7 linked regions of the Homo sapiens genome follow. The protein of the gene in region 1 interacts with the protein of each later gene in a pairwise test. Each region holds a gene or a part of one and is shown in the gene's direction. Other genes may lie near its edges. The genes, in order: CHERP, FIGN, SNRNP27, AGGF1, PPIL4, FRA10AC1 and CLK3.

Evidence for each region.
Region 2: the proteins of CHERP (region 1) and FIGN interact in binary tests that used the Homo sapiens proteins (3 or more experiments, as listed by UniProt).
Region 3: the proteins of CHERP (region 1) and SNRNP27 interact in a two-hybrid assay, tested with the Homo sapiens proteins (one large-scale study listed by BioGRID and IntAct).
Region 4: the proteins of CHERP (region 1) and AGGF1 interact in a two-hybrid assay, tested with the Homo sapiens proteins (one large-scale study listed by BioGRID and IntAct).
Region 5: the proteins of CHERP (region 1) and PPIL4 interact in a two-hybrid assay, tested with the Homo sapiens proteins (one large-scale study listed by BioGRID and IntAct).
Region 6: the proteins of CHERP (region 1) and FRA10AC1 interact in a two-hybrid assay, tested with the Homo sapiens proteins (one large-scale study listed by BioGRID and IntAct).
Region 7: the proteins of CHERP (region 1) and CLK3 interact in binary tests that used the Homo sapiens proteins (3 or more experiments, as listed by UniProt).

Annotation. Positions count from the first base shown.
Region 1 is NC_000019.10:16,521,114-16,525,460, reverse strand, and holds part of CHERP (calcium homeostasis endoplasmic reticulum protein), read left to right. Parts: coding exon 1-219; intron 220-2,170; coding exon 2,171-2,409; intron 2,410-3,806; coding exon 3,807-3,940; intron 3,941-4,108; exon of another isoform or gene 4,109-4,347. UniProt on the Homo sapiens protein: Involved in calcium homeostasis, growth and proliferation.
Region 2 is NC_000002.12:163,610,133-163,614,479, reverse strand, and holds part of FIGN (fidgetin), read left to right. Parts: intron 1-1,895; exon of another isoform or gene 1,896-2,048; coding exon of another isoform or gene 2,049-2,151; intron 2,152-2,673; coding exon 2,674-4,347.
Region 3 is NC_000002.12:69,896,716-69,901,062, forward strand, and holds part of SNRNP27 (U4/U6.U5 small nuclear ribonucleoprotein 27 kDa protein), read left to right. Parts: intron 1-661; coding exon 662-741; intron 742-4,347. UniProt on the Homo sapiens protein: May play a role in mRNA splicing.
Region 4 is NC_000005.10:77,061,148-77,064,159, forward strand, and holds part of AGGF1 (angiogenic factor with G patch and FHA domains 1), read left to right. Parts: intron 1-555; coding exon 556-655; intron 656-1,904; coding exon 1,905-2,105; 3' UTR 2,106-3,012. UniProt on the Homo sapiens protein: Promotes angiogenesis and the proliferation of endothelial cells. Able to bind to endothelial cells and promote cell proliferation, suggesting that it may act in an autocrine fashion.
Region 5 is NC_000006.12:149,542,914-149,547,705, reverse strand, and holds the start of PPIL4 (peptidyl-prolyl cis-trans isomerase-like 4), read left to right. Parts: upstream 1-1,662; 5' UTR 1,663-1,700; coding exon 1,701-1,770; intron 1,771-4,792. UniProt on the Homo sapiens protein: PPIases accelerate the folding of proteins. It catalyzes the cis-trans isomerization of proline imidic peptide bonds in oligopeptides.
Region 6 is NC_000010.11:93,695,442-93,699,788, reverse strand, and holds part of FRA10AC1 (protein FRA10AC1), read left to right. Parts: intron 1-1,392; coding exon 1,393-1,488; intron 1,489-1,607; coding exon 1,608-1,653; intron 1,654-4,347. UniProt on the Homo sapiens protein: May be involved in pre-mRNA splicing.
Region 7 is NC_000015.10:74,625,702-74,628,981, forward strand, and holds part of CLK3 (dual specificity protein kinase CLK3), read left to right. Parts: intron 1-100; coding exon 101-267; intron 268-1,650; coding exon 1,651-1,745; intron 1,746-1,837; coding exon 1,838-1,967; intron 1,968-2,268; coding exon 2,269-2,351; intron 2,352-2,902; coding exon 2,903-2,982; intron 2,983-3,240; coding exon 3,241-3,280. UniProt on the Homo sapiens protein: Dual specificity kinase acting on both serine/threonine and tyrosine-containing substrates. Phosphorylates serine- and arginine-rich (SR) proteins of the spliceosomal complex.

The DNA of each region.
Region 1 (4,347 bases):
GCCAGCGCGAGCCACCCTTCCGCATGCAGCGGCCCCCACACTTCCGGGGGCCCTTCCCGCCCCACCAGCAGCACCCGCAGTTCAACCAGCCTCCGCACCCCCACAACTTCAACCGCTTCCCGCCCCGCTTCATGCAGGACGACTTCCCGCCACGGCACCCCTTCGAGCGGCCGCCCTATCCCCACCGCTTCGACTACCCCCAGGGGGACTTCCCTGCCGGTGAGTGTACGGGCGCCTGGGTAGGGCCTGGCGGAGGCATCCACGGCTCGCCTGCCGAGCAGGCTGGTGGCGCTGCTTGTGGCCCTGCCATGCTCCTGAGTGCACAGTGACAGACACAGGGTCATGGGACGTCCGAGGAGCCCGGCCTGGGTTCTCAGGAAGTGGGGGCACAGACTCAGTTTTGCCGCCCTGATGAGGCCCGGCTGGCTGCAGATGAGGCAGAGCCAGTAGGAAAAGGTTCCTGCCGTGGGTGGGCGTGGCGAGGGCAGGGCGGGGCCTCGTTCTTTTTACTGCTGCTGCTTGTTTTTTGCATCAGTTTTCCCGTTGTATTAGTTCGTTTAAAAAATCAATACTTGGCGTGGTGTCGGGCGCCTATGGTCCTAGCTGCTCAGAAGGCTGAGGTTGCGGTGAGCTGTGATCGCACCACTGTACTCCACCCTGGGCGACAGACCGCTGTCTCAAAAAAAAAAAACAAAAAACTACTTTTCTTTTTTAAAAAAATTTTATTTTATTTTAAATAGAGATGGGGTCTTGCTATGTTGGCCAGGCTACTTTCAAACTCCTGAGCTCAAGCAGTCATCCCACCTCAGCCTCTAGAGTAGCTGGGTCTACAGATGTGAGCCACCATGCCTAGTATCTTTGTTATTGATTTTATTTCTAATCTTTTAGTACTTTTTTTTTTTTTTGAGACAGAGTCTCACCCTGTTGCCCAGGCTGGAGTGCAATGGCACAATCTCAGCTCACTGCAACCTCCGCCTCCCAGATTCAGATGATTCTCCTGCCTCAGCCTCCCGAGTAGCTGGGATTACAGGTGTGCGCCACCATGCCTGGCTAATTTTTTGTGTCTTTAGTAGAGACAGGGTTTCACCATGTTGCCCAGGCTGGTCTCGAACTCCTGACCTCAGGTGATCCGCCCGCCTCGGCCTCCCAAAGTGCCGGGATGAAAGGTGTGAGCCACCTCGCTTGGCCTTTTGTTGTTGTTGTTTGTTGTTTTTTTGAGACTGAGCCTCACTGTCACGCAGGCTGGAGTGCAGTGGCACAGTCTCGGCTCACTGCAGCCTCCTCTTGGGTTCAAGTGATTCTTCCACCTTGGCCTCCTCAGTAGCTGGGATTACAGGCATCAGTCACTATGCCCAGCTAATTTTTGTATTTTTAGTAGATGGGGTTTCGCCATGTTGGCCAGGCTGGTCTCAAACTCTGGGCCTCAAGTGATCTACCCGCCTTGGCCTCCCAAAGTGCTGAGATTACAGGCGTGAGCCACCATGCCCAGCCTTCTCTCTTTAAATACATTTCTGATTATAAATGCAGCTTGAAGACCGCTTGGCACATTTATTGCTTTTACTTTTTGGCTTGGGCTGACATGATAAGTCCCACAGCCTGGACGGCTTCAACAGCTGGAATGTATTGTCTTAAGGATCTGGGGGCTGGAGGTCCAAGGTGGAGGTGTGGCGGGTTCAGGTTAGTGTCTTGGAGGCCTGTCTCCTTGGCTCATAGGTGACCGTCTTCTCTCTACATGTCTGTGTCCTAATCTCTTATTATAACGGCAACAGTCACGTTGGATTCGGGCCACTATGGCTTCATTTTAACTCATTTGTGTCTTTGAAGGCTCTGTCTCCAAATACAGTTCCGTCCTGAGCTACTGGGGGCTGGGACCTCAGCGTATGGATTCGGAGGGTCACAACTTAGCCCTCACCGTGCAGTTTTGGGGTTTTGGGGTTCTCTTCTCTCAGCCTCAAGCTCCCTCGGCTGTGCCTATGGGTGCGGGACAGGCCCCTCGGAGCCTGGCTCCTCGGTGCCTTGCTGCCTGGTCTTAAGCAGTGAGAGAAGATGCTGGACAGGCTCCCAGGAGGGGTTCGTCTCCTGGCCCTTCACTGAGCCCCTCCCCTCCAGCACTTGTCGCCTGGGAGATCCTGACTGGCCTGTGGTCCTGAGGCAAGTCTCTGTTTTGCAGAAATGGGGCCCCCTCACCACCACCCTGGCCACCGCATGCCTCATCCTGGCATCAACGAGCACCCGCCTTGGGCTGGACCCCAGCACCCTGACTTCGGCCCTCCCCCCCATGGCTTCAACGGGCAGCCCCCACACATGCGGCGACAGGGCCCACCCCACATCAACCACGATGACCCCAGCCTGGTCCCCAATGTGCCCTACTTCGATCTCCCTGCTGGGCTGATGGCCCCCCTCGTGAAGGTAATGCCCCACAGTGGGCTCCAAGCTGAGCACGCTTACCATACTGGTCCCCGTTTCTCCTTGTGAAAAGTGAATGCACGGGACCGGGTGCCTTCCGGGGCTCCCCTTCATCTCCCACTCCCTAGGGACCCTGATCCGTCAGTGGGAGGTGCCGAACCGGAGTAGCACGGTGTGGCTGTGAGCGACACCATGTCTGCCCTGCCCTGCCCCTCCTATCCCTCCCACCACAGGGAGCTTCAGCCATGTGGGGCTAGCTAGGCTATGAGGCTCGAGTCCTCTCTTCGTCCTTCTTGGTCCAGGGCCTCAGAAGCACCTTGTCCCAGGGCTGCTGATGGAGGGAATGTCTTAGAAGGAGCCACCTGTGAGCTGTGCCTACCAAGCACACAGGGAGGGGGGTGGCCCTGGAGAAGCCGGGCAGGGCTGGCAGCAGCTGGTACCACTGTGGGATGGCCGGAGCATAGGGCAAGAGGTGAGGCAAGAAGGGGCCAGGTCTGGCCAGGCGTAGTGGCTCACACCTGTAATCCCAGCACTTTGGGAGGCCGAGGCGGGCGGATCACGAGGTCAGGAGATCGAGACCATCCTGGCTAACACGGTGAAACCCCGTCTCTATTAAAAAATACAAAAAATTAGCCAGGCGTGGTGGCAGACGCCTGTAGTCCCAGCTGCTCGGGAGGCTGAGGCAGGAGAATGGCATGAACCCGGGAGGCGGAGCTTGCACTGAGCCGAGATCACGCCACTACACTCCAGCCTGGGCGAGAGCAGGACTCCGTCTCAAAAAAAAAAAGGGGGGGTTGGGGAGGCCAGGGCCGGGGCTTGGGGCCTCCAAGGGCATGCTGGCCACTGCCACTTCCCACCCCCTCAGACACATCCACCTGAAGTCCAGGCAGACTTCACGGAGCCATGGGCAGCAGGGAGAGCTGCGGGCGGGGGCCCAGGCAAGCCAGGCAGGGCAGGGCCTCAACAGGAGGACAGAGACGGAGCAGAAGAAGGATACAGGCCAGGGGGCTCCAGGGCCGGGGCTGAGGCTGTTCTGAGCGGGGGCCCAGGGTAGGCATTGCAAGCAAAGGGTGACGTGAGGGGCCCGCTGCATGTCTGAATAAACCAGAGGGTGTTCAGGTCACCTGAGTTTGGAGACCATGTCCCCTGTGGGTGATTTTCTGAAGAGAGAACCCTGTGACTGTCATCAGCCTCAGAGCAGCTATGACCCACCATGGTTGGTGTGGCTGAGGTCCTACAAGAGAGTGGGATCCCCAAGAGGGAAGCATGAGGAGCTCTGGTGCCCAGGGTACCCTTGACACTGAACCTGGGCCCTGCCCTGACCCCACTCCTTGCAGACCCTGGGTGGGCCTGAGAGGGCTCTGCCCAGGCATGGTGACAGCTGGGGTTCTCTGCTGCAGCTGGAAGATCACGAGTACAAGCCTTTGGACCCTAAAGACATCCGCCTCCCACCCCCCATGCCGCCCAGCGAGAGGCTGCTGGCTGCAGTGGAGGCCTTCTACAGCCCCCCGTCCCACGACAGGCCCAGGAACAGGTAAGGGGCCCAGGTCAGTGGGGTGGGCGGGAGGCCTCTGTCCCCTCTCCCGGCTCCCTGCAACCACACCTTCTGTCCAGGCTAGAAAATGTGGCTGTCCCTCAGGAGAAACTGCCCTCCCCCCGCCTGAGTGACAAGTGTGTGTCACAGGCACAGCACACACGTGGCCCTCAATGAAGGGCGTTTTAATGGAGACACATCAGAAGAAGTTAGGGAAGGTGTGGCACGGCGGCACGTCTCAAGCAGCCGGCTGCCACAGGGCCCTCAGCCCACCCTTCCCAGTGGTCACCCCTCCTTCCTGTGCTGGGCTGCAGGCCTGTCCACCCATGAGTCAGTGTTCCTGTTTCCCAGTTCCACAGACCATGGGTCCCCACCACCTCAGCGGAACAGCAGGGTGGCAAGGGCGT
Region 2 (4,347 bases), on another chromosome or scaffold:
CAGGACTAATGAATTTGTAGGTCTCTTAGACAGTTCTACATTACAGTCACATTAATATTCTCTCCTTTTTATAAGGCTTGAAGTAAATCCCACGACACTAGAAGCATTTAGATACTGATTACTTGCGATTGGTTCCTGGTGATTTGCTCTTAATAATTTCCAGTTGAATTTAATGAAAGTATGATTCCTGAAATGCTGCTTCATTAAAATTGCAGCTTTTCCCCTTTAAGTGTGGTTTCGGTCATTTCACCCATTTTGCGGTGTGTTTTCCTCCCCCTTAAAAAGTAATGATTGAGAAAGCAGAAATAATTAAGAATACCACTTTAGTTCTCCCTGGAACTCATCCTCAGAGTTTCTCTGAGTGAAATGATGCAAGCTGCATTTCATCAGGATTTTATAATACTATTTTCCCATTCAATGAGATTATTTAATAATATATAAAGTTTTAAAACATAAATATGAATTTTGGGGGTAGTTGAGGGAAATTGAAGAAAGAATCTGTTGCATGTACAAGAGAACTGAGGTCTTTAGAATTTTTACTAATATGTATATACATATATTTAGGTTGATTAAGTTACACTGTGCAGCATTCAGACTTAATTTAACTGAGTTGTGATTTGCAAATGAATATCTACATGGATCCTTTTTAAAAATCAAAATGCAAATGAGTACAATTGCAGTAAAATATATTTGCAAATGAATCCTGTTGCTTTATTCATTTATTGTGTAATTACTGCAATCCTTCCCACCTTGTTTTCAGTATTTCTTAATCATTAAGTCGGAAGCATGACAGCAGTGCCAGCCCTGGCATGATTCTCTTTGACTAAAACCTTGTAAATTAACACAATTAGCACAGCATCATCCTGCTAATTAACTTCCAGTGTCTGGTGCAGTGGTTTTGCAAACAAGGAAGAGGGAGTCAGAAGGGAATCAACATGCCATTCTGTTACCAAACTGTGTGTTATGTTCAGTTTATCGCAGTAAGTCAGAGCCGGCCATGTCAGAAGCCAGAGTCAGGCAATGAAGAGCCACAGAGCTTGGAGGAAGAGCACAGAAGGGGGTAGAAACTGACAAAATAGACTGTAGTAATTCAGAAGGGGGTTGATGCCACAGATGCTTCATGTAGACCAGGCCTCCTCCTTATCAAGGCATCTCTGCCAGAGGGCACAAGACAGTTTGCAAAATTCACTTTGGGTAATACAAAAAAGATGAAGGAGAGATGCTTAATATAGCTGTACCAGAATAGGAAGTGTTAAACCAAGCAGAGATTAGACTGAGATGAGCCAGCAATGGGAAAAAGGAGAACAGGGTACCAGTCCTCTTCTGTAACTAACTGTATGTGAGACCTCGAGGGTACATTATAAATCGCTTTGGGCCCTGGTTTCCTAATCTGTGAAATAAAGTAATTTCTAAAGTCTCTTTACAATTTAAAATTCAAATTATTCTGACTGCTTAGTATTTTTTTCTTAAATGAGAAAATGCTCATTTTGTAGTTTGCTACATAGTCAACTTTGCTTCACTTAGTAACCCAGCAGATGATAGAATTACCCAGACCATCTCATTATCTACTTGTACTCCTCTAGCGTATGCCCTACGTGGTTTCCTATAGAAATTGAAAGAGTTAGAATCCAGAATCTCTCTCCATTCTTATCTTCCCTTTCCCCTCAGTTTCCTTTCTCTCTCTCTCTCTCTCTTTCTCTCTCATATATAATATATATATATATATATATGAAGATGTATAAGACAGGATGTGTATAAATACACACACACACACACACACACACACATTCTCCCCTCTTAGTACCTTGCAGGCTGTAAGGGGAGGAGGGATTATAAGAGAAGGAGGGAGAACGCTAGAAGACCGACAGACAAGTGATGCTTGTTTTTTTTTTCAGAGACTCAACAACAGAACTGAGAGGCAGAAAGGAGCCAGTTGTAATTCATACCGAGTTGTAGGCTTTGTGCGATGAAAGCGATGGAGCGCTGCCTGGGAGATTGCTTTGCTGCACTCCACGAAGCAGATTTGAAACTGTCGTGGACCACTTTAGATGAGAGTTGGATTATGGAATGACCTGCTATGTCTGTGTCATATTGTTCTGCGCAGGGAGCATTATACTGTGCTAACTAGGTGTTCAGTACCAAATAAGAGAGGTATCCTAGATGTGATCTGTCAGCTGTGTCTCATTTTTATATTGCTTAAAATGTAAAACAAACTGTGATGTGAACAGACAGAATAGCTAGATATTGTACATGTTAATACTGCCATGTGCAAGATATTTAAAATGTCTGCTTATTTTAAGAACCTATGATTGAATTCTAATTTGACAGGAATGTGTGTGTACATATATATGTGATTGTGTATGTGCGTATAGTAGGTAAGCTGATGGGCTTGACAGAAATAGATTTACTTATTCCTTACAAATGCAAAAAATATAGGTAACTACAGAGTTATATTTTAAACTCAGTGTGCTTTTTAAACAGGGCTGAAGTTTAGTCCATTTTAAAGAGTACTTATTATAGGGATCATAATAGGTATTATAAACAGTGTAGATCTTTTAAAGTATGCATATCATTAATGGAAAATAATAGGTAACAAAAGAAATTGGGGGAAAAGCTTTAAGAGTTCTGATGCCTATTTAAGTAAATTAACTCTTTTCCCCCCAAAATTCTTAGGCTTGAAGATGCAGTGGACGCCAGAGCATGCCCAGTGGCCAGAACAGCACTTTGACATCACCTCAACCACTCGGTCTCCTGCCCACAAAGTTGAAGCCTACAGAGGTCATCTGCAGCGCACCTATCAGTACGCCTGGGCGAATGATGACATATCTGCTCTGACTGCATCCAACCTACTAAAAAAATATGCAGAGAAGTATTCCGGCATTTTGGAAGGTCCTGTGGACCGACCCGTACTCAGCAACTATTCGGACACACCATCAGGACTAGTGAACGGTCGGAAAAATGAAAGTGAACCCTGGCAGCCTTCCTTGAATTCAGAAGCTGTTTATCCCATGAACTGTGTTCCGGATGTTATCACTGCCAGCAAAGCTGGAGTCAGTTCAGCCCTCCCTCCAGCAGATGTCTCTGCGAGTATAGGAAGCTCTCCTGGGGTAGCCAGCAACCTGACAGAACCTAGTTATTCAAGTAGTACCTGTGGAAGCCACACTGTACCCAGTCTTCATGCAGGGCTCCCATCTCAGGAATATGCCCCAGGATACAACGGATCATATTTGCATTCTACTTATAGTAGCCAGCCAGCACCTGCACTTCCTTCACCTCATCCGTCTCCTTTGCATAGCTCTGGGCTACTACAGCCCCCACCACCACCTCCTCCGCCACCAGCCTTGGTCCCAGGCTACAATGGGACTTCTAACCTCTCCAGTTACAGCTATCCGTCTGCTAGCTATCCTCCTCAGACTGCTGTGGGGTCTGGGTACAGCCCTGGGGGGGCACCGCCTCCGCCTTCAGCGTACCTGCCTTCAGGAATTCCTGCTCCCACCCCCCTACCCCCCACCACTGTTCCTGGCTACACCTACCAGGGCCATGGTTTGACACCTATTGCACCGTCGGCTCTGACAAACAGTTCAGCAAGTTCTCTCAAAAGGAAAGCTTTCTACATGGCAGGGCAAGGAGATATGGACTCCAGTTATGGAAATTACAGCTATGGCCAACAGAGATCTACACAGAGTCCTATGTACAGAATGCCCGACAACAGCATTTCAAACACAAATCGGGGGAATGGCTTTGACAGAAGTGCTGAAACATCATCCTTAGCATTTAAGCCAACGAAGCAGCTAATGTCCTCTGAACAGCAAAGGAAATTCAGCAGCCAGTCCAGTAGGGCTCTGACCCCTCCTTCCTACAGTACTGCTAAAAATTCATTGGGATCAAGATCCAGTGAATCCTTTGGGAAGTACACATCGCCAGTAATGAGTGAGCATGGGGACGAGCACAGGCAGCTCCTCTCTCACCCAATGCAAGGCCCTGGACTCCGTGCAGCTACCTCATCCAACCACTCTGTGGACGAGCAACTGAAGAATACTGACACGCACCTCATCGACCTGGTAACCAATGAGATTATCACCCAAGGACCTCCAGTGGACTGGAATGACATTGCTGGTCTCGACCTGGTGAAGGCTGTCATTAAAGAGGAGGTTTTATGGCCAGTGTTGAGGTCAGACGCGTTCAGTGGACTGACGGCCTTACCTCGGAGCATCCTTTTATTTGGACCTCGGGGGACAGGCAAAACATTATTGGGCAGATGCATCGCTAGTCAGCTGGGGGCCACATTTTTCAAAATTGCCGGTTCTGGACTAGTCGCCAAGTGGTTAGGAGAAGCAGAGAAAATTA
Region 3 (4,347 bases), on another chromosome or scaffold:
AGACTGGAGTGCAATGGCACAATCTTGGCTCACTGCAACCTCCGCCTCCTGGGTTTAAGCAATTCTTGTGCCTCAGCGTCCCAGAGTAGTTGGGATTACAGGCACCCGCCACTATGCCCGGCTAATTTTTGTATTTTTAGTAGAGACGGGTTCTCACCATGTTAGCCAGGCTGGTCTCAAACTCCTGACCTCAGGTGATCCTCCCGCCTCGGCCTCCCAAAGTGCTGGGATTATAGACGTGAACCACCGTGCCCAGCCTGAGATTTTGTTTTAATTGCACCCTAGCAAGTTGCTGGTTATCTATGGTGCTCCTGATATAGAACGATAGTTAAAAACATGAGAATATTCTATTTTGGAAGTGTCTTCAGAACTATATAGTGTCATGCCTGATATTAAAGGTAGTCCTTAATATGAAACCCAGGTTTTTTTTTAAAAGGTAATCCTGTCTAAAGGCTTCAAGGAGAGGACTTTTTTTTTGTACCATAAGTTACATTCTGTCCAAATGTAAGAGGAATTTTTTCATTAGACTCATCTTCAGCTAATTGTTTTGTGTGTTCTCTGCTAGTGAGGTGGAATGACTATTAATCTGTTACCACCTCTCTTTTTATTTATGTATATATTTGAAATGATAGAGAGGTCACAAAATTATTCTTTTTTGCAGAGGAAGACTTAGAGGGCAAAACAGAGGAAGAAATAGAAATGATGAAGTTAATGGGATTTGCCTCCTTTGACTCCACAAAAGTAAGTAAAACGTGCAACATTCTCATTTGAATTAATATGTTATGACTGTCCTATCTTTCCATGTTCTTTTCCATTTATACAAATTTATTTGGTTATAAGACAATAACTATCTGTTTGAAGGGCTTTGAGAATACAAAGGAGGAAACAGTGAACTGCCATTGGAATTCAGGGAGTGGTTGCCAGGGACGATGTTTGAATTAGATTTTAAAGGACAAGTAGAAGTGATCAGACAAAGAAGAGGAAGAAGATTATTTCAGGTAGAGGGAAGAGCTCATGAAAATGCCATGTAGGTGTAAAGGAGCATAGTGTATTGTGGGAATTTCAGATTCGACCAGGGATAAAGGGGTGCTGATGGGCTAGTGACTTAGGCTAGAAATAGAGGTAGGAGGCAAATCACAGAGGGCTTTTGATGCCCTTAGTCATGCTAAGGAATTCAGAGTTTATTCTTTTGGTGTTGAGGAGAGGAAGTAGTGATTTTTAAATAAGGGAGTGGCATGGTTATATGTGTGTTTTGGAATAATGACTCTGGGGGCAGCATGGAGGACAGATGGGAGGTGGGTTAGATTGAAGGCAGGGAGAACTGCTGATTTGTGCAAGTGAAAGATGATAAAGGCCTGAACTGAGTTGAGAATGATTCAGGAGCTGGGGGAAGTGGGAGTGAGTAGTTAGTAATGCCTCTCAGGTGTCAGGCTGGGACCCTGAGTGATACAGTTAACCCAGAACAGAGTTTCTGGAAGGGGAACTGCTGGGAAATGGAAGAACAAAATCCAGCTGCCAGATAGAGATGACATTGGGCAGCTGCATACTTGTCTCATAGCTTAGAAGTGGGGTGGATAGGGGAGGGAATGCTGTCTAGCCTTCATAATAGCAGAGAGATGAGGGAAGAGGAAAAAGAGGGAGGGATTATATAGAGGAGGGAGAGCATAGAGCGAGAGATGGGGGAAGAGAGAGATGGGTATAGAGAGAGGAAATGAAGAGAGGAGAGGGGATGGAGAGAGGGAGGGTGTGTGGAAAGAAAAACATATTTTTTAAAATCTCTTTTCTAGAATTTTAAGTCTTTCCATTTAGTTTTGCAAATGGAAATAGAGATGTTTGAGAAAAAGTTGTCAAAAATAATCCACTTTCCCAAGTCTTGTATTCCATTGAGTTGCTAATGGAATGGGGTAATCTCAGTGGCTGTAAGTTTCTTTCTAACTAATGTGACTGTGTAGGGCTCACATGTTTTAAAATGACAGTGTGTAACTTAGGAGTACTGAGGCATGACTGTTTTGAGGTGAGAAATTAAGAACAAGCTCTTGTTCTTGCAATGGTTATGTGAGCTCTGTTTTGGAATTTAATGAAGTTTATTTATCAGCTTTTTTCCCTTGAATGCCCTAAATTCTTATTTATTTTCCAAAGACTATTTTATAAATGAAAGTTTATTAAGATATATGTTGGGTGAAATGTAAGTTTATTAAGATATATGTTGGGTGAATTAAAATATGTCAAAAGTAAAGCAACTATAGTTTTATTGTCTTTAGAAGAATGGGGAGGGAACTTTTTCCCCAAAGAAAATGGAATTATTTTCTTTGTTTTTTGGTTTTCCTGTTGCTGGATGTTAGGTTTAAAGTTCCTGAAAGTCAGATCTAAGGGTGGTGCCACCCATCACTTAAATGTAGTCAGTGAAGAAGATGTTTGCTTATAAAGGAAAACTTAGGTGAAAAGTCATAGATCTTAAAAAAATTATGGAGTACCATCACACTAATTGATGTCAGTTTTTTAAAATGACATCTACAAGGATGTCAATTTAGTTTATATGCAGTTGGCTTCATGGCTATCAGTTATAACGTCAGCTCATTTGTGTTTTTAAGTAATGTGTGTCTTGTGATGTTTCATCATTGATCTATTGTGGGACCTCTTCATATGCCAGTATAGTCACCCATTTTCCTTTCTATTTGATTGTATTTTCATTTTTTTATTTGTATTATTTTTTATTTTAATTTTATTTTTTCGAGACAGAGTCTCGCTCTGTTGTCCAGGCTGGAGTGCAGCGGCGCAATCTCGGCTCACTGCTACCTCCGCCTCCTGGGTTCAACCGATTCTCCTGCCTTGGCCTCCCAAGTTGCTGGGATTACAGGCGCCTGCCACCACGCCTGGCTAATTTTCGTATTTTTAGTAGAGATGGGGTTTCGCCATATTGGCCAGGCTGGTCTCGAACTCTTGGCCTGAAGGGATCCACCTGCCTTGGCCTCCCAAAGTGCTAGGATTACAGGCGTGAGACATTGCGCCCGGCCTCATTTTTTAGTTTTTTAGAGACAGGGTCTTGTTTTGCCACCCATACTGGAGTACAGTGGTATGATCATGGCTCACTGCAGCCTGACCTCCTGGGCTGAAGCAATTTCCCTGCCTTAGCCTCTGGAGTAGCTGAGAGTAGGCACATGCCGCCACGCCAGGATAATGTTTTTATTTTTTGCAGAGATAGGGTCTTGCTGTGCTGCCTAGATTGGTCTTGAACTCATGGCCTCAAGAAATCCTCCTGCCTCAGTCCATTTTTTTTTTTTTATTTTTGAAGAGACAGAGTCTTCCTATGTTGTCCAGGCTGTACTCAAACTCCTTGGCTCAAGAAATCCTCTTGCCCCAGCCTCCCAAGTAGCTGGGACTGTAGCCTCACAGCAATGTGCTTGGCTTTTCCCTTTCATCTTATTAGATTGGTGGAAAAGTAATTACAGTTTTTGCCATTGAAAATAATGGCTAAAACTGCAATTACTTCAATAACATTTTTCTAGATGGTTTCAAAGTTTGGTTTTGTTTATTAATGGATAATTTTCTATGCCAGCATGTAAATAAATGAGGATAGGGCTAATAATATGCAATTCTGCAAATAGTTTCCAGAAATCAGTAAACCTTTAGGAATCGAACTTTGTAAAAAGGTTATCATCATTTACTTTTTTGTGCCCAAGACCAGTCTTTCTAAGTCATGCTTACTTCCTATTATAGGGAGTTCAAAATCATATACCTCACAAGTAATTTGTTCAGGACTTACCTTCCACCTCCAAAAAAATACATGAAAATAGGAATAGAAAAGTAAGACCAAATACATTTATTTTAGCCCCACTTCAAATATACTGTTCGTCTGTGTATGCCTTTTGGCCAGTGGGTCAGAATCGGTCTTTGCCCTGACACCAATATCTAATTAAGTACACTACACAGATAGGCTAATCTTGCATAAGTAGTAATGGGAGAGGGAGGAGGTGGGGGTCACTTGTATGTGTCACGACGTTAGCTGATGATACTCATCTAAGTCATTTTCTGAATATCTGGGAGTGCAGTGACCTAGGATGTGAGAATGCAAAGGTGACTCTCAGACATATCCCTCCATCAAGAAGCTTGCAGTCTCATAGGGAAAATAACTTTATGATGTACATCATGGTTTTATAGGGTAGAAAATAGAGGGTACTGGGCTGGGTGCAGTGGCTCATGCCTGTAATCCCAGCACTTTGGGAGGCCGAGGCGGGGGATCACGAGGTCAAGAGGTCAAGACCATCCTGGCCAACATGATGAAACCCCATGTCTACTAAAAATACAAAAATTAGCTGGGCGTAGTGGTGCATGCCTGTAGTCCCAGCT
Region 4 (3,012 bases), on another chromosome or scaffold:
GCAGAATACACATTTCTTGGACAAGAAATAGGAAATTATCAGTAACCCCAGAAGCTTATTCTCCCTGTGCCCCACCTAATCACTGTCCTGCTGTCCTCCCGAAAGGTAATCACCATCCTAACAGCAATAGATTAATTTCACTTATTTTAAAATTTTAATGAAATGGAACAATTCAGTATTTATTTTGTGTCTATATTTTTTGTGTTCCACATTATTTTGTTAGGTATGGTTTATTTTTATTGCTGAATAATATTCTACTGTATCACTATACCACAATTTATCCATTTTAATCATTGCCAGACATCTGGATCATTTCTGATTTGTTGCTATTAGATTTGCTGGAAGAACATTGTTGTATGTGTGTTTTGGTGCACATGCACATGCTTTTCTAAGTAGGATATGTACCAGTGGAATTTGTGTGTCTTCAACTTTGTTAGGTAATGCCAAGCGGTTTTCTAAAGTAGTTGTACCAATTACTTTTAATTCATGAATTTATTATAAATGTGACCTAAAAGATCTTTTATAAATCAACTATCATTTTAATATTCCTTAAAGTGAAATTACTGATAGCAACAAAGGTCGGAAGATGTTGGAGAAGATGGGTTGGAAGAAAGGAGAGGGCCTGGGGAAGGATGGTGGAGGAATGAAAACGCCGGTAAGACTTGGATTTTCTTTTATTCATTTATTCCTAGAGCAGACATTTACCGTGTACATTAATGTGCCAAACGTTGCCTTAAGTGCTAAGAATATAGTAGAAAGCAAAAGGAGACATGATTACTGCCTTTGTGGCATTCACAATTACCAAATATATACATGTGCTTTGTTTTGTGTTTTATATTTTTAGAAAGCCTCTTTTTGAGTTTTTTTCCCTACATTAAAGCTAGGGTGAGAAGTGCTGTTTCCTGAGCCAAAGGTTCTTCTGTGTTTTAGAGTCATTTTTAATAACTGTCAGAGCACTCAAGAACAATCACAGTGTTAGTTTACAAACAGGTGGATTGTGTATGAGCTGAAAAATCTGTTTGGTTCAAGAATCAGAGCATGTAACATGAAATATAGAGAATAATCTCTGGAAAATGACATAGTGGTTTAATTAATGGTCCCATGGTTCGTAGGAGGTTTAGGTTATCTTTCACACAAACCTTAATAAGTAACCTGACTGTAGAACTTTCTGGATAATGAACTTAGTACCTAAAGAAATAATAGATGGATCAGTGTGAGTATATACCAGCTTTCTCATTTTTTTTGAGGTACAGTGGAAAGAACAAGGATTTTGTAGTCAGACCTAGGTTAGAATATGTGCTCTATCATTTACTAGCTATGTGGCTTTGGGCAAGTTTGGACTTTAGTTTTCTTATGAAAAAATGGGGATAAGAACTCTTTTTCAGGGTTGTCTTGAAGATAAAGCCCCTAAGCATTGTACCTTACATTAGGCACTCAGTAAATGGTAGCTTTGAATGTTCTTAAAATATTGAGAAGTGCTCCCCTCCTGTTATGAAAACAATCAAATTCTTTTTATGGTTATTAATGTTTAACCTGCTTGTTCACTTACTTAGATAAGGATAGGACAGTGGGTTTAAACATATCCATTGCCTTTATTTCTGGTTAGGGTGGAATGACATACTCTGCAGCATCTAAATGAAATTTGGTGATTGCTAGTTAAGGAGCACTCTATTTTCTGTAAAGTAGGCTGTACTTATTGACAAGGCAAGACAACATAGAAAAATGAATGTAAGTTCCATGTATAAAGGTATATATATTCCTGTATGTATTTGATGCATCTGACAGGTTTTTCTTTTGCATCAATCTTTAATAAATCAAAAAATTGTAGAGTCCTAAGTTGGACACAGCAGATTTCAATGTGTTTAGACTCTAAAATAAGTCCTCTGCTCAACTTTTGGTAACAGATCCAGCTTCAGCTTCGGCGAACACATGCAGGCTTGGGGACAGGCAAACCATCCTCATTTGAAGATGTTCACCTTCTCCAAAACAAGAACAAAAAAAACTGGGACAAAGCACGAGAGCGGTTTACTGAAAACTTCCCAGAAACTAAGCCTCAAAAAGATGACCCAGGGACCATGCCTTGGGTAAAAGGGACTTTAGAGTGAAGGCTAATCATAGAAAAAAAACCTCTAGTTTTTTTAAAAATAGAATTTGGAAACTTATTTTTTCTCCCCAAAAGAATCAGCAGCACAGGGGAACTATGTCACAGTTTACCTCTTCCTGATTCAGAAATGTGTATGGTTTGCAGCTTTTAAAAACCATTTTTTTAAAACTAATAAATAGTGACTGAACCAATTTATGCAGTAAATAGACTAAAGTTCACAGGGCACGGATGAGTTTATCAAACTTCGTTATTTTATCTTGTCATTTACAACATCCATATAAGCAACTAGCCATATAAGCAAAATTCATAGAACTACTAATGACTTAAGTGTACATCTGTTCTTGTCTCCATATATTCATGTAAGATGCACAACAAAAGAAACATCAGAAGTTTATAAAAATAAATCTGACTATATGCATCCTCATTTATTCCCTTTAGAACCTAGGTAAAAAATGTTGCGAAAACATGGGTAGTGGCGCATACATTTTGTTATCCTTGAAATAGCCTAAGTAATGTTATTGAAGAACTAATGAACAGGTAACATATTGTAGAAAATTAGTCTTTCATTGTTTTCTTCTGTGAAGAATCTGTTGCTATGTACTGTATATTCAGCATTTATATTTGGTTTGTTTCATAGCTAATGAGGTATTTAGATATGAACAACTGAATACATATTGAAATAGTGTGCTGGCTTTTGTAGTTTTGATAAAGACCATTGCAGGCAATGGAATTGTGCCAGAGAAATCTGATTTCTAGTACAAAAGGAATACTTAGCCAGGGCCTCAAGCTCAAGATACTTATTGAAAACATCCTCAATTGCAATAAAAACATTATAACATGAAAAAGAGTGATTTTTTGAACCGGTGATTTAAATGTATTGATCTGCTTTGAATTTTCAAGCAGCCAGA
Region 5 (4,792 bases), on another chromosome or scaffold:
AACAAACATTTATTTGCACATTGTGTACCAGGCTGTCATACGCATTAGGGATATAGCTTTAAACAAAACAGACAAGATGGAATATCCTGGAACACACATTCTAGTAACAATAAACAAACAAACAAATTCGTAAATAGCATGTTAGATTGTAAAATGTACTCTGGAGAAAAAGCTATATGGAGAAAAAGAAGTGTCTGTGGGGTTAATTTTAATTATGGCAGCCATGGAGGGCCTCACTGACAGGGTGACCGACGCCAAAGCGCCTGAAGGAGGTGAATGGGAGCCATACAAATAACTGGAGGAAGAGGTCCCTCAACCAAGGCAAGTGAAAAGGCCATGGGGCAGGAGTATGTCAGCAGTGTTCAGGGAATAGCAAACTGTCTACTGTGGCTTCAGAGGAATAAGAAGATGGCGTAGGATGGGGTAGGAGAGGATCTTGTAAATCATTATAAAAGCTCTGGCTTTTCCGCCAGGTGCGGTGGCTCAAGCCTGTAATCCCAGCACTTTGGGAGGCGGAGGCGGGCGGATCCACGAGGTCAGGAGGTCGAGACCATCCTGGCTAACACGGTGAAACCCGGTCTCTACTAAAAACACAAAAAATTAGCCGGGCGTGATGGCGGACACCTGTAGCCCCAGCAACTCGGGAGGCGGAGGCAGGAGAATGGGGTGAACCCGGGAGGCGGAGCTTGCAGTGAGCCGAGATCGCGCCACTGCACTCTAGACTGGGCGACAGAGCGAGACTCCGTCTCAAAAAAAAAAAAAAAAAAAAAAGCTTTGGCTTTTCGTCAGATGTGAAGTTATTGGAGATTATGTGTAAAATGTCATAAGAAAGAGTGACAGGCTTGCCCAGAAGAGTGTCTGGGGAATAAACTTGCATGGCAAAATGTTAGTTTTGGCCAGGCGCAGTGGCTCACGCCAGTAATCTCAGCACTTCGGGAGGCCAAGGCGGGAAGAGTTCGAACTCCTTGAGCTCAGGAGTTTGAGACCAGTCTGAGCAACATAGTGAGACCACCTCCCCCGACCGCCATCTCTACAAAAAATAAAAGAACAAAATTAGCCGGGCGTGGTGGCGCGCGCCTGTGGTCACTTGGGAGGCTGAGACAGGAAAATCGCTGGAGCCCGGGAGGTGGAGGTTGCAGTGAGCCGACATCGCGCCACTGCACTCCAGCCTGGGCAACAGAGCGAGACCCTGTCTCAAAACAGAAAACAAAACAAAATGTTAGTTCTTAGAATCGGAAACCCCTAGTAGAGGCCCAAAGTTGTTTTGCGAAAAGGAGACTGACGAGGAAACCCGGAGGAGTCCGCCCAAATAGGTGGAGAGAAGATCCCGCCGCGGGCGCCCCCTGGTGGATAAAAGGGCCGCGCGGAGGGCCGCTCTGCTCTTGAGACGGACACAAACGGGGCACAAAACACTATACTGAGACCGTTCTGAGGGACAGGCTTCCACCAAAATCGCCAAGGGCGGACCAGGATTTTCAAAACGGCCGCGCCGGGGGCGGGACCAACCCGATCCGTAAGTCAGCTGGGCAGCCCGGCGCCCGCACGCCGACCGGAAGGAACTGCTCGGAACCGGGGGCGGCGCCGGCGAGATGACGCAAAAGGGGTCGCGCCGAGGGTGACGCGTGGCGTAGACGACGCCGTCGGCCTGCGCCTGTCACCCCCCTCCTCCCGGGGTTTGTAGCGGAGGAGGAGCGGGCGCCATGGCGGTTCTACTGGAGACCACTTTAGGCGACGTCGTCATCGACTTGTACACCGAAGAACGGCCGCGTGGTGAGGCTTGAGCCCCACTCACCTGTCGCCGGGGCCCCCGAGCTTGTCTCCCTACTTTCCCTTCTCTGCGCAGTCCAGGGCAGAGATTGGCTAGAGCTCGAGCTTCTGGGCTGCTGGTGCCCGCGACTGGGCTATTTTATTAACCGGCCTTGGCTAGAAAAGTTTTTGTGACGGGAATTCGTTTGAGCCTTGGCAGCCCTTCTCCCGTATTTTGTGTTGGCCAGTCCGGTGGACGGTGCTTGCGGTCATTAATTGCCTTTGGGAGTGTGTGTGTGGGGCGTGTGTGTGTGTGATTCGAGCTGCACATACAATACCCATAGCTTTTGTGCCTTTATTGTGTTTACTCGTGAGAGGAACATAGGAACTATTGCTTGGTGTGTAATCGGTTAAATCTTGATGAAGGCAGTTAGGGTGTGCTTGGCGCAGCGAGTGTGGGCATACCGCTTAGGTGGAGGAGGAAGAGGTTGTCTGGAGTGTGGACTGAGCCTTCGAGGCACTGGGCTAAGTCCTGGGCTTGGCTTCTTGCCCCCGAGGGTCTGATTTTTCCACTGGGGGAAGTAGACACAGGAACCCATTTTAGTTTTCTATGTGTTATGGTAGAAGAATGTGTAAGTTGCCACGGAAACCAGAAGAGGGCGGCTTCTTTGGTGGGGGGTGGGAAGAAGCAAAGCTAGCGAATACTATATAGAACACTTGAACTAGTTCTTTCAAAGATGAATGGGAATGAGGGTTTTCTTAGCTTGGACTTTCTTTGTTTGGAATTTTCTGGAAACGGCAAGTAGTTTGGTGTGGCTGGAAGGACTGGTGTGAGTCGTGGAATGGTAGACTCGAGTGTGGTCAGATACGCCTAGGTCAGTCGTGAATAGTCTTGTGTGCCCTACTGATGATCAGAGTCCTTGAAGACTTTAAAAGCAGGATTGAGGCATGGCATACTTGTTTTGAGAAGATAATAGGCAGCGGTGTGGAGAATGTATCAGAGTCAGGAAGAAACTGAGACCAGGAGAGATTAGTTACAAACAGGGTCCTACCCACATGGAATGCAGAGCCTATCAAAGAAGGTGAAATAAGTTGCAATATTGTACAATAACTACCTCCTGCCGTGCTCCGCTTTCCCTCGCACGCAGCTATTCCTCCCTCCTCTCCACCTGGCGAAAACACTACAAACTCTCCCGTACCATTGTTACCATTCTTTTGCTGTTTCTTCTAAACAATATTCTTCTCCACTATTGTCCTTCTGGCAAACTTACTACTTATTATCTAAATCTCAGATCAAGCATCATCTCTTCTTTGAAGCTCTCCCTCCTTTCTAAGCAGAGTTACCTGAGGGTTCCTCTGCTGTGTCTTAGGTCTTTTATAAACCACATGACACATTTTATTTTAACATTTACCTATTATCCTGGTGTTGTTTACAAGCGTGCCCTCGCTCAAGAATGTAAACTCCAATGAGAGCAGGAACTATACCATAATTATCATCTCTATATCCTGAGTACCCAGTACAATGTCTGCTACTTTTAGGGCACACACTAGAGGTTCATTATGATGACTAATGGATATAAATGTGTTGTATTAGTTAGGACCCTTTGTTCAAGTGATAGAAACCCAACTCAAACTGGCATAAACAAAATAATTGGTTGCCTCATAATACTGGGGTAAGCTTGGATCGAGTGGCTGGATCGAGTGTTTCAAAGAATATCATAGGGAATTTTGTTTTTTATCTCTTGATTTTGCTTTTCTTTGAGTTCCTTTGACGCTCTGCCCATGTAGAGTAGCACCTGGCAAAATAAATGGGCCTCTTTTCCCAGAGTTATGAGGAAATAAAGGGGTGTAGAGCTACCCCACCCAATTAACAAGCAGTGGGTCTGCAAAGATAAGCCCATAACAATAAGTCCACCCCCTGTACATATTTGTAAGCATATGACTGGAGATGTGCTTACATGTGTACCTGCTATATTTATACTCACTTATCAATCTATGATCAACATATCCAGACTTACCTACCTTCCATTCTTTCTTCCTTTTCTTTTTTAACTTTTTATTATAGAAAATTTAAAACACAGATGTAGAGAGAATCATGTAAATGAACTCTCATGTCCACATGACCAGCTTTGTTTAACAGCTGTGAACACATAGCCAATCTTGCTTCATTTATAATACCCCCACCTCCAGTGCATCTATTTAATCTGTAATTACTTCAGTATGTATTTCTAAAATATAACGTCTCTTTAAAAAAAACAAGAAAAAATGGAACTATGAGCTTAAGTACCACATAAGTGACAGGTTAAAAAAGAAAAAAAACTTGACAGGGAAAAGGGAAAAATACTAAAGGAAAGAGAAAAAGTTGTAAAAAAGAATAAAAAAACAGAACCACAGATCTTATCACACTTTGAAAAAACTAGCAATAATTTTTAGTATCATTTAAACTTTCTTATTATCTCATAAACTTCTAAAAAATATGGTGATTTAAATTAGGACCCAAAGTCCATATATTGGTTAAAATGTCTCATATATGTTTTAATCTATTGGTTCTCCCCCTTTTTTCCTTGAAAAAATTTTGAGAAACAACCTGGGTGCTTTGTCTTGTAGAATTTCTCTTGTTTGGATTCGACTGATTATTTACTGGGTGCGTTAACATATTTTTGTGTCCCCTGTTTCCTATAAATTGTTCTTTAGCTTCAGAGCCTTGATTAGGTTCCAGTTTAATGTTTTTGGCAAGAATATTTCATATAAGATAGTGTGTACTTTCAGCTGCATCACATTCAGGAGGCACTTGATGTCTGGTTGGCTCTGTGATGTTAAAATTGGTCAGTGGGTTAAGGCCTTGTTGCGCTTATAAATTGTTCCCATCGGATTTTGATGAAAGACCTAAAGATTTTGGCAGCCATTGATGATCATTGCCTAAATTCATTATTTTTGTTTCTAGTAAAAGGACCACCCCTATCTGTTAAACATGAAGCCCAGAAATATATTCAAGAAAAACAACTGCAAGACTGATATTCAGCACTCTTCAACAGCTCAGCCCCAT
Region 6 (4,347 bases), on another chromosome or scaffold:
AATCTTTTCAGAAATCAGTGAAACCTTTTCATTACATATATTTTTCATTCAACTGTCAAGGACTGTTTATTTGTAAATGTTGTAGCTCAGAAGGGGCTTGAATGGTGGTCTCTTGCCATTACTTGCCTTCAAAGTGAAGTTAATATGGAGGATGAAAGTATAATGCAGCACAGTTCTTACGCATACGTGAATGAGCAGACTAAGGTCACGGGAAGAAACTCAAGGAAGGTTTTTTTGAATTGCAAGAGACAAAAACTCTTAGCACATAAAGCCTGTGCGTTATAAGCAGGATACGTCTTGGTGGAGCTGCTGTGCGTAGGAGCATTGTTCTTAGCTTTCAGTGCATAGAAACTCAGTTTTATACTTTGACTCAGGAGTGGTTGACTGATGTATACTAACCAAACTTACACGGCTGTTGACTGATTTTTTTAAGCAAATGTATAGAAATTGGCTTATTATTTCACACTGAGAGCAATATATTAGGCATACTAACAGGTTCTGAACATTTTTATAGGATACTCAGTCTCTGCAATAAAGGATAGTACTAATTATAATAAATTACATTTTTGATGCTTTACATTTTCTAGATTTTTCATTCAAAAATACTACTTTGTAAGAATAGAATTTGAGCAAATCTAGTTGGATACTCTGCTCCAGGATTATATTCATCACTATAACTAGGGCTGACAGTCTATGGCAGGGTGTCCAGTCTTTTGGCTTTCCTGGGCCACATCGGAAGAAGAATTGTCTTGGGCCACGTACTACAGTGGAGCACACACAATTGTGAATCTGTTGGTTCACATTGTTGGCCTGAAGCAGTGCTGGGCCTGCGTAAAATACACTAATGATAGCCAATGAGGTTTAAAAAAATGTGAAAAAGTGTCTTAATGTTTTAAGAAAGTTTACAAATTTGTGTTGGGCCACATTCAAAGCCATCCTGGGCCACATGAGGCCCATGGGTTGGGCGAGCTGGATCTGTGGTTTGTGTTCTCTATAATCAGCCTTGCTTTTTGTGTATCATTAATTACCAAAAACTTCCTTATCACTATGTTACAGATAGAGAAATGAAGAAACAAAGAGATAAATAATTGAATCTTATTAAGATTAAGGTAGTAATTGACAGAATTAGGATTTGAATCAGGAAGCTAGGTGATATGACACTAGAGTCCATGCTTTTGTTAGTTTCATCTTCCCCGTGTTATAGGTATTAAAATAATGTTAAGGTATTAATTAAGCTATTTAAGGAAATGTAAAATATCTCATTAAAGATCAGTGAGTCTTCTTAAAGTTAAGACTTACATTCTTTAAAGTATATTCCAGTTATGAAAATATAAAGAATTAGAAAATAACCTTTGAAAAAAGTGAACTCTTATTTTCTTCTTAATATATCAGGACAGTTGAAGATGACTTACTGCTCCAAAAACCATTTCAGAAAGAAAAACATGGAAAGGTGGCCCATAAACAAGTTGCAGCAGAATTGCTGGATAGGTATGGTATTTCAGTGTCAATTCTATTTCTTGGTTTAAGTTGCTTCGGATTAGGGGATTTGATTATGTTAATTTGAATATAAACATTTTGAATTTTCTTAAAAAAATTTGTTTTAACAGGGAAGAAGCAAGAAATAGAAGGTTTCATCTCATAGCTATGGATGCTGTATCCTTTTTTTATTTCCAGATTTTTATAACTAGTAGAATATTTTAAAATCTGCTTTTTTGTTTTATAAAATCTTGTGAAGTCAAATAGGCTTTTTTATTTTTAAAGATAAGTATTTAGTGATGTAGGATTTTGCCATTTATACTTTTGGGTACAATTCTCTTTTACTAATATATAGGAAAGATTTAGAGACAAAAATAATAAAACATATTACTAGTACTCTATAAATAGGTTTATAAAGTACATGAATCTGCAAATATATTTTCCAAATTGTTTTTTCAAGCTTTCAACATTTCCTTTTCCTATACTTATCTTTAGTCTCATTTTAATTTATTCTCTTCCTACCTGGTTCTTTGCTATTTAAGGTCTCTATAAAACTTGTATTTAAAATTAGGTCTATCCAGTCTGTCCCTGGATCTAAGGAAAAAATAAAAATAAAATGAGGCCTGCCTGTGGACTGTCCTCAGGCCTGCCATGGCTTTAATTTTTAGGCATGACTTAAAGCTATCTTTAAGATAAACCCTGCTTCCTGGTTATAGCCATTTGTCAACTCAGTTTTTTAATAAGACTGGCTGATGACACTAACTGCTACGCTGGCCATCCATACTGCTGTTGAGAATATTGGAGAATTTAAGAGATACCAAGCAAAAACTGAAGTATTTTTGGGTATTTATTGCTGTGATCAGAATTGGGAGAAGGAGACAGTGTCAATTTGATACGCCCCCTACCTGTAATCATCTGTTTCACTGTGCTATTCCAATATTTTTCTTTTAAGTTATAGAAGTACCATTGTGTCACTAATTGATTTATTCTTCTTATCTCCTAACCCAATAGCTAGCTTTTCCATGGATCTCATCTGCCATTTGTTCCTTTAGCATTTAAACATTTGCTCTGCCTTCTCTGACACCTACTGCATTGGGGGCACCTAGTTATAGCCTGGTGAGAGTGAAAGTATGGGTACTCTTTTTTCTGGCATAGGAGGAGTTGGAGCCACAGTTTTTTTTGTTTGTTTGTTTTTTGTTTTGTGTGTGAGGATTTATTTTATTTTATTTTTCTTTATTTTATTTTATTACTTTAAATTCTGGGATACATGTGCAGAACGTGCAGGATTGTTACATAGGGTATACATGTACCATGGTGGTTTGCTGCACCTATCAACCCATCACCCTCACCCTTCCCCGCCCACCGGCTCCAGTGTGTGATGTTCCCCTCCCTGTGTCCATGTGTTCTCATTGTTCAGCTCCCATTTATGGGTGACAACATGTGGTGTTTGGTTTTCTGTTCCTGTGTTAGTTTGCTGAGGATGGTGGCTTCCAGCTTCATCCATGTCCCTGCAAAGGACATGATCTCATTCCTTTTTGTGGTTGCATAGTATTCCATGGTGTATATGTACCACATTTTCTTTATCTGGTCTATCATTGATGGACATTTGGATTGGTTCCATGTCTTTGCTATTGTGAATAGTGCTGCAATAAACATACATGTGCATGTATCTTTATAATAGAATGATTTATATTCCTTTTGGTATATACCCAGTAATGGGATTGCTGGATCAGATGTTATTTCTGGTTCTAGGTCCTTGAGGAATTGCCACATTGTCTTCAATAATGGTTGAACCATTTTACATTCCCACCAACAGTGTAAAAGTGTTCGTATTTCTCCACAGCCTTGCTAGCATCTGTTGTTTCCTGACTTTTTAATAATTGCGATTCTGACTGGGAACCACAGTTTTCTCTGGGTTGTTTGACAAGAGTAGAGTAGTTATTGTCTCAAAGTTGTCTTGCTAGGCTGACTCTTGGTCATTTGGTTAGAGAGAACAGCTTTTGTTGACGATTTTTTAGTCCGTGCCTGTTGGTGTTTCCGGGTTGTCACCTTCTTTACCTCCAATTCTAGGATACATGAGACAAAAAGAAAACCTAGGGAACTCGCTATCATGTCATACCATAGGTCTTCAGGAGGTCCCTAGCGGGGCGCCTTCTTCCTTCCACCTTTTAGAGTCTTTTTATGTTTGATATATAATGTATAAGGATTTTAGTTGTTATTAGTATGAGGAATAGGGAGAAGTACATCTTTGCCTACTCCATCTTCCCGGAAGCAAAAGTTACACCCACCACCTGTTCTTGTACATAAAATTATATTGGAATACAGCCATGCTTCATTTATATGTTGTCTTTGGCTGCTTTCATGCTAAAATGGCAGAACTGAGCATTTGCAACAGAGACCATATGGCTTGCAAAGCCTGAAATATTTACCATCTGGCCGTTTGCAGAAAATGTTTGCTGACCCCAGCTCTAATAGGTTACATGACTTGCCATGGTCATGTGACCAGTTAGTGGTAGATCAAGAGCTAGAATCCAGATCTCCAGGTATTTGGTTTTTCTGTCTCTCTCTTTTTTTTTTTTCCTGAAATATTAACTGGTTTGTTACAATATGGAAATACCATAATCTGATTAAATTGTCTGTTAGTACACATTATGATCAGTTAAATCACTATACATGTTTAATAGTCACAGAGAATATTGTAGAAGGTGAGGTTAGCTATTATGTGCATGTTTGGCTCTAGAGAGAGTGCTGTTGAGCTTTTTAAAACAAAAAGTAAAATGCTCATATATTTTGTTACAATGCTTTGAAAAAACATGGCATTTTATTCTTTGAATTTAAAAGACTATAAAAATTGATTTTTTATATTTGCTT
Region 7 (3,280 bases), on another chromosome or scaffold:
CGGTGGCCTAGGAGAGAGTTGGGAACTGTCTTCATCTGAGAGAGGGGGTGAGGCAGGCCCCCAGCACACAGCCTGAGCCCTGCCCATCCTCCTCCTCCAGCCTGTGTGTCTTGATGTCTGACTGGTTCAACTTCCACGGTCACATGTGCATCGCCTTTGAGCTCCTGGGCAAGAACACCTTTGAGTTCCTGAAGGAGAATAACTTCCAGCCTTACCCCCTACCACATGTCCGGCACATGGCCTACCAGCTCTGCCACGCCCTTAGATGTAAGTGTCCACCCTCAAAAGAAGCATGGGCAGCCACATGCCTGCAGCCAAGTCATCTGGTTACTTGTTGTCCCCATTCATTCCAGCACGTTACTAACCATTCTCCTGGGCCTGAGGGACACCAGATCCCCTTTGGCGGAAAGGCCTGTCTTTGGGTGGGAATCTCAGTGTGAGGATGGAAAGGCTAGGGCTCCCTCCAGGGACCTCCTGGACCAGCCTCTCTACCCCCAGGCACTCAGGAAGAAAACAGAAACGAACTGCTCTGGAATTGGCCTAACCACCAACCCTGCCTCCCTGCTTCATGCATGGGATAAAAAGGTAGAAGCCTGACCTGACAGATAGCACCACAGGTCCTGCCCACATGGAGACCCTCGGTCTAACCCTGACTTGTCATCTCCCTGCCAGCCTGGAAAAGCATTATTTGGCAGTGCCAGGGCTCAGCGCAGTAGGATTTGCAATGGTTGCAGCAGTACAGAAAGGCTCCTTGGTGAAGTTGGTAGGCGTTGAGCTAGAATCGCTCAAGGTCACCCCGCATCGCTCCCCTACCCTGAGCACTGCTACTGTGATAGGCTGCAGGCCACTGGGGTGGGAAGCCCCACATGGATGAGAAGACAGGTGTCTTCCTCCTCCCACAGGATCTGCAAGATGGGACAGGGACAAGGATTCCAAGCAAGGGGAACAGCTTGGTGAGGCCTGGAGCCTGTTAACGGGCTGAGAATTGGCTCCAGTGGAGTAGACTGCCACTGGGGAGTGGTGGGCCACATAGTTGTGAGGGTCTTGAGTGCCAGATGGGATCCTTGAGCTGAAAAGTGACTACTAGCAAGAAGCCACTGTCAGAAGGGGCTGGAGGGGAAAGGCTTGCCTGCTTATGACTAGCAATGAGAGGCGGGGCTGTCTTCCTGGGTATGCGACCTGTGCACTCAGTCGCACAGGACCCTGTGCTTGATTTAATGTCCTTTTGCCACCACCTTAATATTCTTAGTAACTTGAACAGGGGACCTGCATTTTCATTTTGCAAAGGGCCCTGCAAATTATGTAGCTGGTGCAGGGAAGAGGGAACCACCTCGAGGCTGTTGCTGTAGCTCTGCTGAGAGACAGGTGAGGAGGCCTGGTCTCTGCAGAGGAGAGGTGGAGGGAGGTTTTTCGAATGGCAAATTTCTTTCCTACCCCCCTGCTAAAGTATCAGAACCCTCCAAGGCCTCAAGTACAGAGAACCCTTGAGAGGGAGGCCAGCACAGAGGCAGGCTGTAGTCCAGCTCCCTGCTGAGGTGGGGGTGTGAGGACCTCTGGCAGTTGCTGGCATTGGAAGAGGGGTCTGGCCTAGAGCTGGCAGGAGAGCCAGCTTCTCAGTGCCTACTTCCCCTTCTTTCCCTGCTACCTTAGTTCTGCATGAGAATCAGCTGACCCATACAGACTTGAAACCAGAGAACATCCTGTTTGTGAATTCTGAGTTTGAAACCCTCTACAATGAGCACAAGGTATTGGTGGGGGTAAGGGTGAGGCCCTGTTTCAGGGGTGGGTTACCCGCTGGTGCAGACTCCTGACCTGGCAGGCCTGCCTTGCCTTTCAGAGCTGTGAGGAGAAGTCAGTGAAGAACACCAGCATCCGAGTGGCTGACTTTGGCAGTGCCACATTTGACCATGAGCACCACACCACCATTGTGGCCACCCGTCACTATCGCCCGCCTGAGGTGATCCTTGGTGAGTGACTGTATGGCCTGTGACCTTGTCATACTGGACTGTTGTTGGGAGGGTATGAGCAGAGGCAGTGGCATGCCTGTCATTCTCTGCCACCCAGGGCAGGCAGAGTTTCTCAGACCAAGGGGCCAGTGTCATGAGACACAGGTGACTGACCTGGCTTTATCTGTCAGCCTTACTGAGAGAGGGCCTCGTACTGGGATTTGGGCAAGAGTCCTGCCAGCCGGTGTGGTGGCTGCCTTGTGACTTCCAGGCTGGAAGCATAAGGCCGGATCTCACAGCCTCTCCCCATCTTGGCTTGCAGAGCTGGGCTGGGCACAGCCCTGTGACGTCTGGAGCATTGGCTGCATTCTCTTTGAGTACTACCGGGGCTTCACACTCTTCCAGGTACAGCCACCCTGCATTGGTCCCCTACCCTGAGTACTGCTACTGTGATAGGCTGCAGGCCACTGGGGTGGGAAGCCCCACATGGATGAGAAGACAGGTGTCTTCCTCCTCCCACTAATCATCATGTGAGATTCAGACCCTTTAAGGATGTAGATGCTAAAGGGAAGGCAGAGGTCAGGGTAGCTGGAACACTCAGAGGAGTCTTATGCTAGGCCATCGAGGATGGAGGATGGGGTAGGAGGTGACCTGACCTTCTAGATAAGGGGCACAGATGACTAAAGGCATCGGGATGGGCTGGGACAGGGCATGTTCTGGGCAGGGAGTGAAGAGCTAACCAGAGAGAAATGTAGTCACAGCCCAGTCCACCTCCACCCACAAGGGCTGAGGAGCCTAGGCACAGGCTGGCAGGAGAAGCTGGGGCTGCCGCTTCATTGGTAGGTTTGCATGTCCTGGGGCAGTGAGGGCACTTGCCCATCTTTCTTGTTCCTTTTTCTCCTTGAAGGGGCCAGAGCTAGTACTGACCCCCTTGCACTGTCCCTAATCTTCCACAGACCCACGAAAACCGAGAGCACCTGGTGATGATGGAGAAGATCCTAGGGCCCATCCCATCACACATGATCCACCGTACCAGGTAAGGACCCCAGTAGCCCCCTCAGGGTTGGTATAGAGGCCTTTCTCTTCTTGGCTGTGGGTCAGCAGGGTACTGGATGTGGTGAGTCTTTGCTGGACAGTCCATGGTTCCGCAGGCTCCTAAAAGCCTTCCCTGTGTGCCCCTGCAGACCTGTTGCCCTGGTTCTGCTGCTGTCTTGGGAGCTGCTCTTCCCCACCTCCCACCAGAGGCTTGTCCCCTTACTACTCCCACACTTGACTCCACCCCCTTAATTTTCAGGAAGCAGAAATATTTCTACAAAGGGGGCCTAGTTTGGGAT